Homo sapiens: one gene and its partner. The protein of the gene in region 2 binds, or shares a complex with, the protein of the main gene of each other region. Each region holds a gene or a part of one and is shown on either strand. Other genes may lie near its edges.

What was found.
Region 1: SAP18 (region 2) and RNPS1 share a complex: the UniProt entries of both Homo sapiens proteins name them as parts of the heterotrimeric ASAP (apoptosis- and splicing-associated protein) and PSAP complex.

Annotation. Positions count from the first base shown.
Region 1 is NC_000016.10:2,258,090-2,265,126, forward strand, and holds part of RNPS1 (RNA-binding protein with serine-rich domain 1), read right to left. Parts: intron 6,672-7,037; 5' UTR 6,555-6,671; coding exon 6,484-6,554; intron 6,243-6,483; coding exon 6,087-6,242; intron 5,199-6,086; coding exon 5,007-5,198; intron 4,754-5,006; coding exon 4,651-4,753; intron 4,343-4,650; coding exon 4,189-4,342; intron 1-4,188. UniProt on the Homo sapiens protein: Part of pre- and post-splicing multiprotein mRNP complexes. Auxiliary component of the splicing-dependent multiprotein exon junction complex (EJC) deposited at splice junction on mRNAs.
Region 2 is NC_000013.11:21,143,083-21,149,598, reverse strand, and holds the end of SAP18 (histone deacetylase complex subunit SAP18), read right to left. Parts: intron 4,508-6,516; coding exon of another isoform or gene 4,315-4,507; intron 2,795-4,314; coding exon 2,672-2,794; intron 2,414-2,671; coding exon 2,257-2,413; 3' UTR 502-2,256; downstream 1-501. UniProt on the Homo sapiens protein: Component of the SIN3-repressing complex. Enhances the ability of SIN3-HDAC1-mediated transcriptional repression. When tethered to the promoter, it can direct the formation of a repressive complex to core histone proteins.

The DNA of each region.
Region 1 (7,037 bases), on a different chromosome or scaffold from region 2:
ACGTCATGAGTGGTTATGAGATACAAGTGTTTAAGAAATAAACTGTATAGATTCAGTAAATCCAGTCACTCAGCAAAATAAACTAAAAATGCTGAAATACTGGGAAACTTCTGGTTCTCAGAAATGATTAAAGGAAATATTCCCATATAAAAAGCCAAATGTATTCTATGTAAGAAAACTGAATTTGATCCTTAAGCTTTTAACAGATTGGAAACTCTCTAAAATGTTAATCTACGCATATTTGCTAATTTTTTTCCCCCAAGAATAGTGTTCCTTTAAACTGGAGCTACAAAAAAAAGGTGTTCCTAAAACATCTTTTCGGTAATCACACACCCACTAAGAACTGGAATCCATGCCGGGCGCGTTGGCTCACGCCTGTAATCCCAGCACTTTGGGAGGTTGAGGCGAGAGGATCACCTGAAGTCAGCAGTTTGAGACAGGCCTGGCCAACATGGTGAAACCCCATCTCTACTAAAAACACAAAAATTAGCCAGGTGTGGTGGCGGGAGCCTGTAATCCCAGCTACTTGGGGAGGCTGAAGCAGAAGAATTGCTTGAACCCAGGAGGTGGAAGTTGCAGTGAGCCAAAATCATGCCACTGCACACCAGCGTGGGCGACAGAGCAAGACTCTGTCTCAAAAAAAGGTGTGGGAGGTTGATTGTAAAGAAAATTCTGTATGTAAACATGCTGGCTAAAGTTAAAGGGGTATCATCTAGTTTTTCTGTAAATTAAGCATTAAAATTACGTTTAGGCCGGGCGCAGTGGCTCACACCTGTAATCCCAGCTGCTTTGGGAGGCCAAGGCGGGTGGATCACCTGAGGTCTGGAGTTCAAGACCAACCTGGCCAACATGGTGAAACCATGTCTCTACTAAAAATACAAAAATTAGCTGGATATAGTGGAGGTTGCCTGTAATCCCAGCTACTCGGGAGGCTAAGGCAGGAGAACTGCTTGAACCCAGGAGGCGGAGGTTGCAGTGAGCCAAGATTGCACCATTGTACTCCAGCCTGGGCAACAAGAGCAGAAAAAAGTCTCAAAAAAAAAAAAAAAAAGGATTGGGTTTTAACATTAACAGCACACTGATGTAAAAGTGAAATTTGGCTTATTTGGTACCAAAAATTATACAGGAAGCACTACCAAATATAAAATTGGGTTTGGCTTTGTTTGGGCTGTATTTGTATAAATGTTATTGATATGTGTCCCAAAATCACGTAAAACTCCTACAATTGCAATATATCCTAGTGTACATGATCAGTAATAATTATAATTGTTATGTTAAATTATTGTGTGCCACAGAGCTAACAAATTTCGTCAATTGTGTCTTTAACTATGGCTGCCCTAAAACCTTTTTGTCATCCATAAACAATTGTTGTCTTGTTTTAATCCTTTTTAGAAGGTGGTTTTATAATCAGCTATAGAGTTCTAACAGTTGCTCTTAAATACAGATTTCTAATAACTTTGCAGATTGTGACATCAGAATAAAGAAAAAACATTCAGGACTCTTAAAGAGCTAAAATAAGGCCGGGTGCAGTGGCTCACGCCTGTAATCCCAGCACTTTGGGAGGCTGAGGCGGGCGGATCACGAGGTCAGGAGATCCAGACCATCCTGGCTAACAGGGTGAAACTCCATCTCTACTAAAAATACAAAAAATTAGCTGGGTGTGGTGGCCGGTGCCTGCAGTCCCAGCTACTCGAGAGGCTGAGGCAGGAGAATGGTGTGAACCCAGGAGGTGGAGCTTGCAGTGAGCCGAGATTGCGCCACTGCACTCCAGCCTGGGCGACAGAGCGAGACTCCGTCTCAAAAAAAAGAAAGGTAAAGCGTTCATTAATATCAAGCAGGGCAGAAATTAACTGCATAAACTGAACTAATAGAACACTGAAGTAATCTTTTTAACTTTTTGCTTAAAATATTCCTAATCCTTTTATTTTTCAAAGTCAAAAAAAGTTTTAAGCTATCAACAATTAAGTATACGCCTAGGAACAAAACTTGGAGCATATTTGTTTCTCTCTACCTAATTTCTTCAGAATTTGGAAACTATTTGTGTGTGTGTGTGTATTCTTTTTTTTTTTTTTTTTTTTTTTTTTGAGACCTAGTCTCACTTTGTTGCCCAGGCTGGAGTGCAGTGGCGTAATCTTGGCTCGCTGCAATCCCTGCCTCCTAGGTTCAAGCAATTCTCCTGCCTCAGCCTCCCAAGTAGCTGGGACCACAGGTGTGTGCCATCATGCCCGGCTAATTTTTGTATTTTTATTAGAGACGGGGTTTCACGATGTTGGCCACGCTGGTCTCAAACTCCTGACCTCAGGTGATCCATGTTGCCCAGTCTATTTGTACGTATTCTTAATTTATAGCAATATAGTTATTTGCGTAAGTGCAATAAAAATCCGTTTTCTTTTGTAACAGAACACAAATAAAAAACCGGCCTCCTATTTTGTGTACACAGTCCCTGTACAGGGTTTCTAATCTGAGGGAAGTAAAACATGCCACTTTCTAATGGACAAAAACCTCAAGTTATCTTGGAACCTCAAGAGGAGAGGATTTCACCCAACTCACAGGTATTTAATTGTACATATCCATGGCTGGGCTTGGGTTTAAAAAGGTATTATCTCAGATAAAAGGCCTATAGAAAAAATTATGGTTCTTGCTCCACTGTATACAAATAATTAAGCCAAATATAATAAAGCAAACCAGTCTTGTCTTTTAATAAATACCAGTCCTATTTGTCTTTTAATAAAAATGGGAAGCCCCCAAAAAAAATTGTTGGCTGGGCATGGTGGCTCATGCCTGTAATCCCAGCACTTTGGGAGGCCGAGGCAGGCGGATCACAAGGTCAGGAGATCCAGACCATCCTGGCTAACACGGTGAAACCCCGTCTCTACTAAAAATACAAAAAATTAGCCAGGCATGGTGGTGGGCGCCTGTAGTCCCAGCTACTCGGGAGGCTGAGGGAGGAGAATGGCATGAACCTGGTAGGCAGAGCTTGCAGTGGGCCGAGGTGGTGCTACTGCACTCCAGCCTGGGCGACAGAGCCAGACTCCGTCTCAAAAAAAAAAAAAAATTGTTTCAAAAACTATAGTACACCCAAATACTGTTCTCAATTTTTTCCTTTTTTGTTTCCTTTTTCCTAATTGGAAATCACTGAAATCTAAGCTATGCTTTCCTCAAGCCCTGTAAACTGAAGACTAAACTTGGGAAGAAAACAGCAGCAACCTACTTCTATGTGTGGCTGTTGCATCCTATTACGTTTCAGCAGGTGCTGCCTCGAAGCCCCCAGAACAGAAAGTGCTACCGGGAACAAATCCACCTCTTCCACTCCAGCGCTGTGTTTGGTGCCCCATGACGACAACCCTCTCTCAGCAGGAAGCAGCCAGAAAGATTACAATGCTTCATCTCCCTACGATTCTCGTGATTAATAAATACATATACATGCATGATAAAAAGCATGAGCAAATTGACAGTGGGGATTGTGGCAGGCCAGGTCTCACTAACGCAGGCCTCTGTAACAAGTGTTTTAGTACTGTCTGAGTAGTTAAATATTAAAAGCCAAGGCCCTTATACAAAGGCTGGGATATAAGAAAAGCCCACCAAAAGTTTAGCTTAGGCCTTTCCTGGGCCTTAAAACATAAAATAACGAAGAATACGTCAGGACCCATTTAGGATTAAGCCAGTTTTATTGGGAAGAAAACTCCCCAAACTGCTGTGATTTAGCAGAAGGCAAAGCAAGGGTAATTACCCCAGCACTCACAGCCATTTAAATTAAGTCAATTTACTGAGGCTCCAGAGGAAGGTCTTCAAGACTCAATCCTTAGTTAATAGATTAAAAGTCAGTAACTTATGTCTTTACATAAATGTACACATATGTATAGACATATAGCTTAAAAAATATATAAGCTCTGAAAAACTTTGTAATTTTAAGTTGGTCTGGCAATAATTTCCAGGCCTTTTCCCTGCAACTGGTTGCAGAAATAAAAACTCCACCTACTCAGTTAATGTGCATCTTGTTATTGGGCCATGAGAAATAGCAGCCCAAACCTCAGTTTGGTCCAGGAACTGCACCCCAGCCTGGGCAACAAGTGTGAAACTCTGTCTCAAACAAACAAAAAGAAGTGCAGCCCAGTTGGAAATCAGTTTGAAAGCCCCTCGCGGCGGCGGGTCTCTGAGAGGTCAGGGTTATGTGGCAGGGTCACCCACCTCCATCCATGTGCTTCAGCGCCTTCTCGGCTTCATCTGGATTCTCAAACTCTACGTACGCATAGCCTTTGGACAGATGGGGATGCATCCTTTCCACGGGCATGTCAATCATTTTAATTTTCCCATAGGTGGAAAATATCTCCATGATGTGATCCTAGAGGGAAAGAAGGGTCACGCCAACGCCCAGCTACCAGTCAGTCACGTCAGACGCAGAGAGCTCAGCACATCATGACTAAAACCTCGGCAGGGTAAAACATTCCATCTGATGAGTACCAGTGTTGTTCTGGGATAAATCTCCCAGACACATGTATTAATGGTCCACCAAGAGGAACGAATCAATGCTGTACTCAAACCACATGCCACCACCCCAGTCCTCCAAAAGGCTACATTCTAAGTTCATCTGCAGGCACAGGCCTGCTTGTCCACACCCCACTGCCCACAGGAGAGATCCATGATCCTCACCTTTGTCACATTCCGGGTGAGTCTCCCAATGTGCACTTTGGTGGGCTTAGGAGATGGGCTCCGCCTTTTCCTCTCCTTTTCATCTCTTTTAGGTGGTTTGGATCTGATTGAGAAAACAAAACACCAGAAACAATTTCTGTCAAGTCAAAATGTACTAGACGCCTTTCGAGTAAGCTCTTATCTGCTTGTGTGACAGTTTTCATAAGGAAGACTTTCCTGCTAGTTCACATACATTATTCCTGTCTCAGAAATCCTATTAACACAGAAAGACTCCTTTTGGGTCCCTTTTATAACCTCGATGGTAAATCTGTAGCCCCGAGCTTGTAAACTTTAGCTCCCAGGCGCAGGGCACTCACTTGGAGCGGGAGCGCCTCCTGTTGTCGTGTCTGCGCCGAGAAGGACTTGGAGAGCCAGAAGAGCTGCTAGAGCTGGAGCTGCGGGAGGTGCTGGAGCTTCCTGAGCGGCTGGATGCTGAGGAAGAGCTGGAGCCACTGCTTGAGCCAGTGCTGGTGCTGGAGCCTGAGCTGGAAGTCGAGCTGGACCGAGACCTGAGGGCAAGATGAGGGGTCACAACCACCACACACCAAGTCTCACAGTACAGACGCCTCCTCCAATTCTGTTGTGCTCCCCCCAGGAGAAACCTGCTGTTCGGGTGCCTCCAGGCCTCACTGCTTTCAGCAGTGGGGAAAACATCACCCCCCAATCCCCCAGCAAGTCAGAGCCCTAGGTGTCACATTGTGTGTGGGACAGGACAGAGGTGATGGGCTGCCTTCTACCCATACAGAAGCCTTTCCTGCTGGGAGGCAAAGGACTCTGGCAAAAGTCACAACTGCCAACTCAGGCTGGGAAGGCAGCTGCTGGCTGATGCTGACCCAGGCTAGGTTGATTTTTTCTTTTGAGACAGGGTCTGCCACCCAAGCTGGAGTGCAGTGGCATGATCTCCGCACACTGCAGCTTCAACCCCCTGGAATCAAGCCATCCTCCTGACTCAGCCTCCCGAGTAGCTGGGAGTACAGGCGTGTACCACCACACCCGGCTAGTTTTGTTTATTTTCCTCAAACTCCTGGGCTCAAGCCATCCTCTTGCCTCAGCCCTCCCAAGTAGCTGGGACTACAGATGCATGCCACCACGCTCAGCTAATTTTACAAATTACTCTTTTTTTTTTTTTTTTGTAGAGACGAGCTCTTGTTTTGTTGCCCATGCTGGTCTTGAACTCCAGGCCCCAAGCAATCCTCCTGCCTCGGCCTCCCAAAGTGCTGGGATTATAGGCATGAGCCACCACTGCACCTAGCCAGTCTGCCATAAATTAGGGTCTCTACTAACAATCAGAGGATGTGTTTTCTTTGTAAATAATCAAGAAAACCGAGCCATCTGTGGGGAGTGGGGGTGTAGCTGTGGCACAGGTCCTCTCCAGGCTCCAGGCCAGCCCGCCCCACCTGGTACTGCTGCTACCACTGGAAGCGCTGCGCCTCTTTCGGGTTTTGTCCCGGCCGCGATCCTTCTCACTCGACTCCTTGGTGGCCCCTTTATCTTTTGAGCGATCCTTGGACTTCTCATCTGAGCGGTCTTTGCGTTTGGTAGGTGAAGGAGCCCTGGATGGTGAGGAAGAGTGTGAGATTGCGTGCTCCTCTGACCAAACCCAAACAGCACAACCCAAAACGGGGGATCAGCATCAGCAGGGCCACAGAGACCCGAGGTGACCACAGAGCAAAGTGGTCTGTGGCTCAGAACACTCACTGTAGAATGCAGAACATTCTCAACTTTCCCCTTTCTGCGGGTCCCTAGCAGTAAGCACCCCCAAGTAGCACTAGAAAAATCTTACAGAAGGATTACCTAGTGCTGGACTTTTTATTATTTTCTTTGACTCCTAGCAAGCTCTTCTTTTTCACTCCTGATAAATCCATTCTCCCCTTCTGAGGTGTTCAAAGCAGCAATGGCGGCCTCACTTATCTGAACTCTCACTTCTAACTTGATTCTGAGAAACGATCCCTAATCGATTGCAATTTACGCCAAAGAGCAGCCTAATAACAAGATAAAAGGGTTTAAAGAGTGAACGAATTGGCAAGGCAACAAGTCTACTTTGCAGTCAAAAGCTGAGCACACAAAAAGGCAGCAAGGGAGCACGGTAAGCAATAAGTGTCCACACAGTCAGGAACACATAGGGACAGTCCCCATGTGCTCCTGGAGGCGTCTCTACCCCGCAGAGGAGGCACAGGTACAACTGTCGCCCCAGCGTATCTTTTTCTTAAAAAATGGAGATGGTGGAGACCATCACTGTTATTTTACAGGCTGAACAATTCAGTTTTCACCCACAAGTTTGATGAGCCCCTGCAGTCCTTTCAAAATGCCACAGCACCACATTCACATGCAGAACAGAGAAAAACCTA
Region 2 (6,516 bases):
TAGCCCCATAATAAGCTGAGGACCGTAGTGAATGGCTTATCGCTTATGCGCCACTGCAAAGCTGAAAAATCTAAAGTTGAACTATCATAACTTGGGAACCATCTGTGTTTGGCACAAGTAAACACTTAAATCATAGTTACAAACTTGATTTAGAGTGTTGCCTTCTATTTCACAAAAACAAGTCTGAAATGTGTTTAATTGAACAAGAAAGAGGTGCATCAAGTTCAGCTCCTTATTATGTTCAACTTTAGAGAATTTTAAACCTAGCCTAATAATGTTTCTTTCTACATTCACACCTGCCCCTCACATGCATACAACCGATACCTAAAACATTACCTGAGTCAATGATCAGCTGGGCATAACCGTCCCAGTTTTTGTACACCGTGAAAAACTAAAAAGACATTATAGGCAATATCATGTACTGTAACACATATTCCAAAGGGAAAACGTCAATTCCAAAATACCTAGGAGCAAATGAGGCAACCAGGGCAGACACTAAAGCACTGAGCAAGATGCTGTCATGATGACTACTTATTTATTTCTATTTTATATGCGGGGAAACAGCTCAGTTATTACTCAAAGCCACACTTACCAAAGCCAGAGGTAAACTAGTACAAGTCTTTTGATTCTTAGCATTATATTCAATAAATTCACTAGGTATTCTCTAACTGTACTTTTGATGGGATATTGAAATCTTTAAAGGAGAAATTCCATGTTGGAACCAAGCAAAGGGTGGAATTTGACAAAGCAGCCCAACCACTTTGGCTTACAAAGTCCTTTATTTAGTTCCTACCCTCTTCATCTGCATAGTAAATCATAGGGTTCCCCCCCACCCCCACCACGAATAGCAGTTAATCATGGCTATTCTCCAAAAAGCTAGGTGCAAATTAACTTTATGGCTCCAGTCTATCTAATCTGAATGAATAAACAACCTAAAGGTTTGGGGTAAACCACAGCACAGAAGAAGCACCAGATCTAGGCTCCAGGCTGGTCTCTGCCATTGCTAACAGGGACACCAATTCCACAGAATCATCAGATTTTAAATGGCTGTTTTTGTATGTACCAGATAAAACTAGTGCAATTTTATTGCTGCTGGTACTTTTTTTTTTAAATTTTGGGATATACATTTTCAATTGGCTACTGTAACAAACTAAAGGGAATTTACAATACACTGTCGTACTGTTCATAAACTTCAAAATGAGAGTAGTGCCATGGAAGAAAAGAGATCCAGTTTTAATACCACTTTATGGCCAATAATCAGTATTTATTGTTTCTCATTTGTCAGGCACCATTCTAAGCTCTTTTAAAATATTCAGTCTTAACAATCCTATAGGCCGTTATCTCCGTTTTACAAAATAAAGATTGAAATAATTTATCCAAGGTTGCAGAGTCACTGCTGCAATCAGGACTTCAATGTTCTGCTGCACTGTCTTCATCACTGCTTTACTGCCTCTCAGATCAGATGCACGCCACTACCTAGCACACAAGAGGATGTGTGAACACCTCCTACTCATTCAACCTGACCTTGTCCTTGGCTCTTCTCCCTCGGTCTTAAGATTCCTCCTTCACCCCTCCCTCCATTTGCAGATCTCCAGGGTTAATTAAACCTTTCTACCTCTACCCAAACCCTTGTTTCCTCTGAACTGGTTCCAGCCTTTAAAATGCCCTATTCCCCACATGTTAAAAACTTAAGTGCTCATTGTGTTGCCTGTTCTTTAACCTTTTATGTCATGGTACCCTGATCAAGGCGGGGCAATCTCGTCCAACACAGCTTCTTCAACTTGCCGCAGCTTATTCCAAACTGCCTCTGCTGCCACTTGAGCTCACTCTCACGTGTCCTTTCCAACTGCATACAGCAGTCTACACCACAAACTCATGTTTGATTTCATACAATCCCGTGGCTTTCTTGTTCTGCCCCTTTGGGCTTAACCATACGCTCCTCCACTACTTAGTATAAACCCTGTTCCCAGGCCTCCATTAACTTTCACACTCAGGCTGATTACACACATATATTTAACAGTACAGTTTTACACAGAATGCTAAGAGCACTTTTCTTCATATTTTACAGAAGGGCTTGAAACATACAGACTATTCGTAATCATACAATAGCACATCCAAATCTAACTCCTAAATAGATGATGCATTATAATTTGTTTAGAATTTAAAGGCTTAATGGCAATAATCAGGGGAGGAAGAAGAGTATGTTTATTTTACATAACTGACGGAAAAATAAATTCAACAAATAGTAAATAGAATTTAATATGGTCTCATGCGCCCTGAAGGAGGTGGTGCCCGATTTGGAGGGGTAATTGCTATGTCCAAGTAATCTCCTATCTGGAACTTCTGCGACTGCAGGGTCATGGAATCATCAGTCCCCTTTCTGCCAGACATGGTGCTGCCAATCTCCTTAACTCTGTAAGAAAGAAAATCAACTGTTAATGGATCCAAATCAATGAAACCCAGTATGTACTACAAAGTGAATATGGCACTGGATTTTCTCCATCATTTTATAACACACTTCCAAAATTTAACTACTTTATTAAGCCAAACCACGTATTAATATAAACCCATATTCTCCCACTAACAAGATTCATTGAAGGAGTTATCTGTATCAGTTAAAACATACTAAAAACAAAGAGATTACAGGACTTAAAAATGAGAAGTTACCTACCGATAGCCAGGTCTTTTAACATCTGTAAAAACGATTGCAAAATTGAAGTGAGTGCCCTTCTTTCTAGCTTCTGGGTAGACTTCTTTTACTAAGCTTGTCAGTTCTTTCAAGGTTGCATCCATCCTGGATTTTTTTTAAAAAAGACATTTACATTTGCTTATTAATCAGCAATAATATTAAAAGGGATACTAACAATGAGTTAATTACATATATCTGAGTTGTGATTTACATTAGAAACTGCCAGGGTCTTATACTAGAGATTAATTTTAAAGCAGCTAAAAATACTATTTGCCTCCAAAAACTCCATGTACCAGCCTTACTGCTGGAAATTTCAATTAATTAGACTCTTAGTGCTAAAAGGGACTTCAGAGATTCTATATGCTATCTTCTGTTGCTACACAACACCTTATGGCCTAGTGATTTACCTAAGGGTAACTAGTCCAAATAAATCCAAATATGCAAAATAGATGTATCCCATTAGTTCTAAGACATGTACCCTTCCACATTTTAGCATCTCTGAAATTGGAATGTATCTTAGAATCAATGTACTAGGAAAGCATTTTCATACTGACGTTTTGTTTTTGAGAGAGTCTCGCTCTGTCGCCCAGGCTAGAGTGCAGTGGCGTGACCTCAGCTCACTGCAACCTCCGCCTCCCAGGTTCAAGCAATTCTCCTGCCTCAGCCTCCTGAGTAGCTGGGATTACAGACGCCCACCACCACGCCCAGGTAATTTTTCTATTTTTAGTAGAGACAGGGTTTCACCATGTTGGCCATGCTGGTCTCGAACTCCTGACTTCAAGTGATCCACCTATCTTGGCCTCCCAAAGTGCTGGGATTGATTACAAGCGTGAGCCACTGCGCCCAGCCAGATGTGTTTCTTCTTTCTTAGATAGAATTGTAAGTTTTACAACAGATAAGAGTACTAGAGCCAATGAAATATACAAAAGTTTCTTACAATGAAGCACAGGCTCTTGTCACAATAGTTTCTTACCCTGCAAATATTGACTTGAATCCAACTTTCATATAGTCCCCTGAGCTAATAAGAGAACAATCTGAAAAAAATATTTTAACATATAAGCATCTTAGAAATAACCTAGTATACATTTTTTTGCCAGGTGCGGAGGCTCATGCCTGTAATCCCAGCACTTTGGGAGGCCAAGGCGGGTGGATCACCTGAGGCCAGGAGCTCAAGTTCGAGAGCAGCCTGGCCAACATGGTGAAACCCCGTTTCTACTAAAAATCCAAAAATTAGCCAGGCGTTGTGGCACACATCTGTAGCCTATAATCCCAGCTACTCGAGAGGCTGAGACAAGAGAATCGCTTGACCTGGGAGGCGGAGGCTGCAGTGAGCCAAGACTGTGCCACTGTGCTCCAGCCTGGGTGACAGACTGAGACTCTGTCTCAAAAACAAAAAAACCTGAGGTCACATTGGTTTATCTGTCTCAGAGGTGACCTTTTTTCAACCTGATATTTTGATGTTAACTATTCTGTATCAATTATAGGTTCAGTATCCCTTACCCAAAATACATGGGACTAGAAGCGTTTTAGGTTTTTTCAAATTTTAGAATTTTTGCATATACGTAAGATATCTTGGGGTTGTGACCCAAGTTTAAATAAGAAACTCATTTATGTTTCAAACATACCTTATACACAGCTGGAATACAATTTTATACATCATTTTAAGTAATTGTGTGCATGAAAGGAAGTTTGGTGCACGCCTGTAATCCCAGCTACTCAGGAGGCTGAGGCAGGAGAATCGCTTATACCTGGGAGGCAGAGGTTGCAGTGAGCCGAGATCGCGCCACTGCACTCCAGCCTGGATGACAGAGCAAGACTCTGTCTCAAAAAAAAAAAAAAAAAAAGAGGTCAAGAACTTATGTGTGCAATTTTCCACCGGTGTCACGTCAGCTCTCAAAAGTTTCAGATTTTGTGGCATTTCAGATTTTGGACTTGCGATGCTCAGTCTATATTCTGATACACAGTACATACTTATGATGATATATACCAGAAAGAATTTTTTCCTTTCTAAAAATATTTTCAATATTGTCTTGCTCTTAATTAATTTGGGGGATTTATATCACACCTTTTATCAGTTCTGACAGTGTGAAACCTACACAAGCTTCCCACCTTCTAAGGACTGTCTTTCCAGACCAACAATTGGAGTGCCAAGTGTTGCTTTTTCATCACTAGTCAGAAGCTTGAGGACAGGGTGGGGTTCAGTACTTGTGTCAGCTTGACGAAGCTACAGTCCCCAGATATTCAACCAAACACTAACCTAGGTATTGCTGTGAGATATTTTATAGATGTGACTAAAGTCAACAACCAATTGACCTTAAATTCAGAGGTCTATCCTATATAATCTGGGGAGGCCTGATTCTATTAGTTGAAAGGCCCTAAGAGCAGCCTTTCCTTCCTGAGAACCTGCCCTACAGATTTGACAATTAAGGGCCTAGACAGCCCCCACAATCACGTAAACCAAATTCTTTGCAATAAAGCTTTTTTTTTTTTTTTTTTTTTTTTTTGAGATGGAGTCCCGCTCTGTCGCCCGGGCTGGAGTGCAGTGGCGCTGATCTCGGCTCACTGCAACCTCTGCCACCTGGGTTCAAGCAATTCTCCTGCCTCAGCCTCCCAAGTAGTTGGGATTACAGGCACCCGCCACCATGCCTGGCTAATTTTTGTATTTTTAGCAGAGACGGGGTTTCACCATGTTGGCCAGGCTGGTCTCCAACTCCTGACCTCATGACCCGCCCACCTCGGCCTCCCAAAGTGCTGGGATTACAGGCGTGAGCCACCACGCCCAGCAGAAATAAATCTCTTAACACATCTCTCCCAATTCTGTTTTTCTGGCTGAGCCCTGATTGACTTTGGTGAACACAGCCTGCCTCTACTGGGCTCCTCTGGACTTCCACTCCTGTTTCCATAACTTCTCTTGGGACTGCCTATTTAACCCCACAGTCTACTTCTCCAAATTGAGAATTTCCAGTATATGTTAACTAATTTTCCCTCATTACTATTTCTGGGAATGAGGGCAGGCCTTTGTGTTACCCCCATACCAATCATCCAGTCTTTCAGAATCTTTTCTTTGGCCACCATTTTGAGATGTAACTTAAAGTTGTTCCTTCTTTGTTTGGTTGCAATTTATGGACGGTATAGTTTAGGACAGGATTTTTTTGGTAATTTTTTTTCTTGATTCAGAGTGGAAGGTCTGTGGAACAACCTCACCCTGCCATTTTAACCCTAAAAATCACTCTATTCATCCGCTTTCCCTGATAAAAGGACTTACTACAGGGAGGAGCAGTACCGTCTTGACTTTATACCCTCAGGATCTAAGCACACACAGCACCTGGCAAATAGGAACTCTTGTTGGAAGAAACATACACTTTAATTTCTGAAGAGATTTTCATCAAGCCATTATTCAACAGTTCTTCCATATAAGCTAAATCAACCTTCCTAGAACACTTACCCTTGAGTGATGCTTAAGTACAGGTATCATACTACTACATAAATTTAACAAGCACCTCCAAATAAGACAAGTAAGGTCCCAATCTTCAAGGGATTAGCTCTAGTGTACAGGGCTTAAATAGTTTAAAATTATACATCTTTTGGGGAATATAAAATAGTGCAGCTGCTGTGAAAAAGTTTGGTGGTTCCTCAAAAATTAAACAAAGTTAACATATGACCCAGTAATCCCCTCCTAGGTACATACCCAAAAGAACTGAAAGCAGCGACACAAACACATTTGTATGCCAATGTTCACAGCAGCATTATTCACAATGGCAAAAAAGGTGAAACAACCCAAGTGTCCATCAATAGATGAGTACATATGTGATGCACACATACAATGA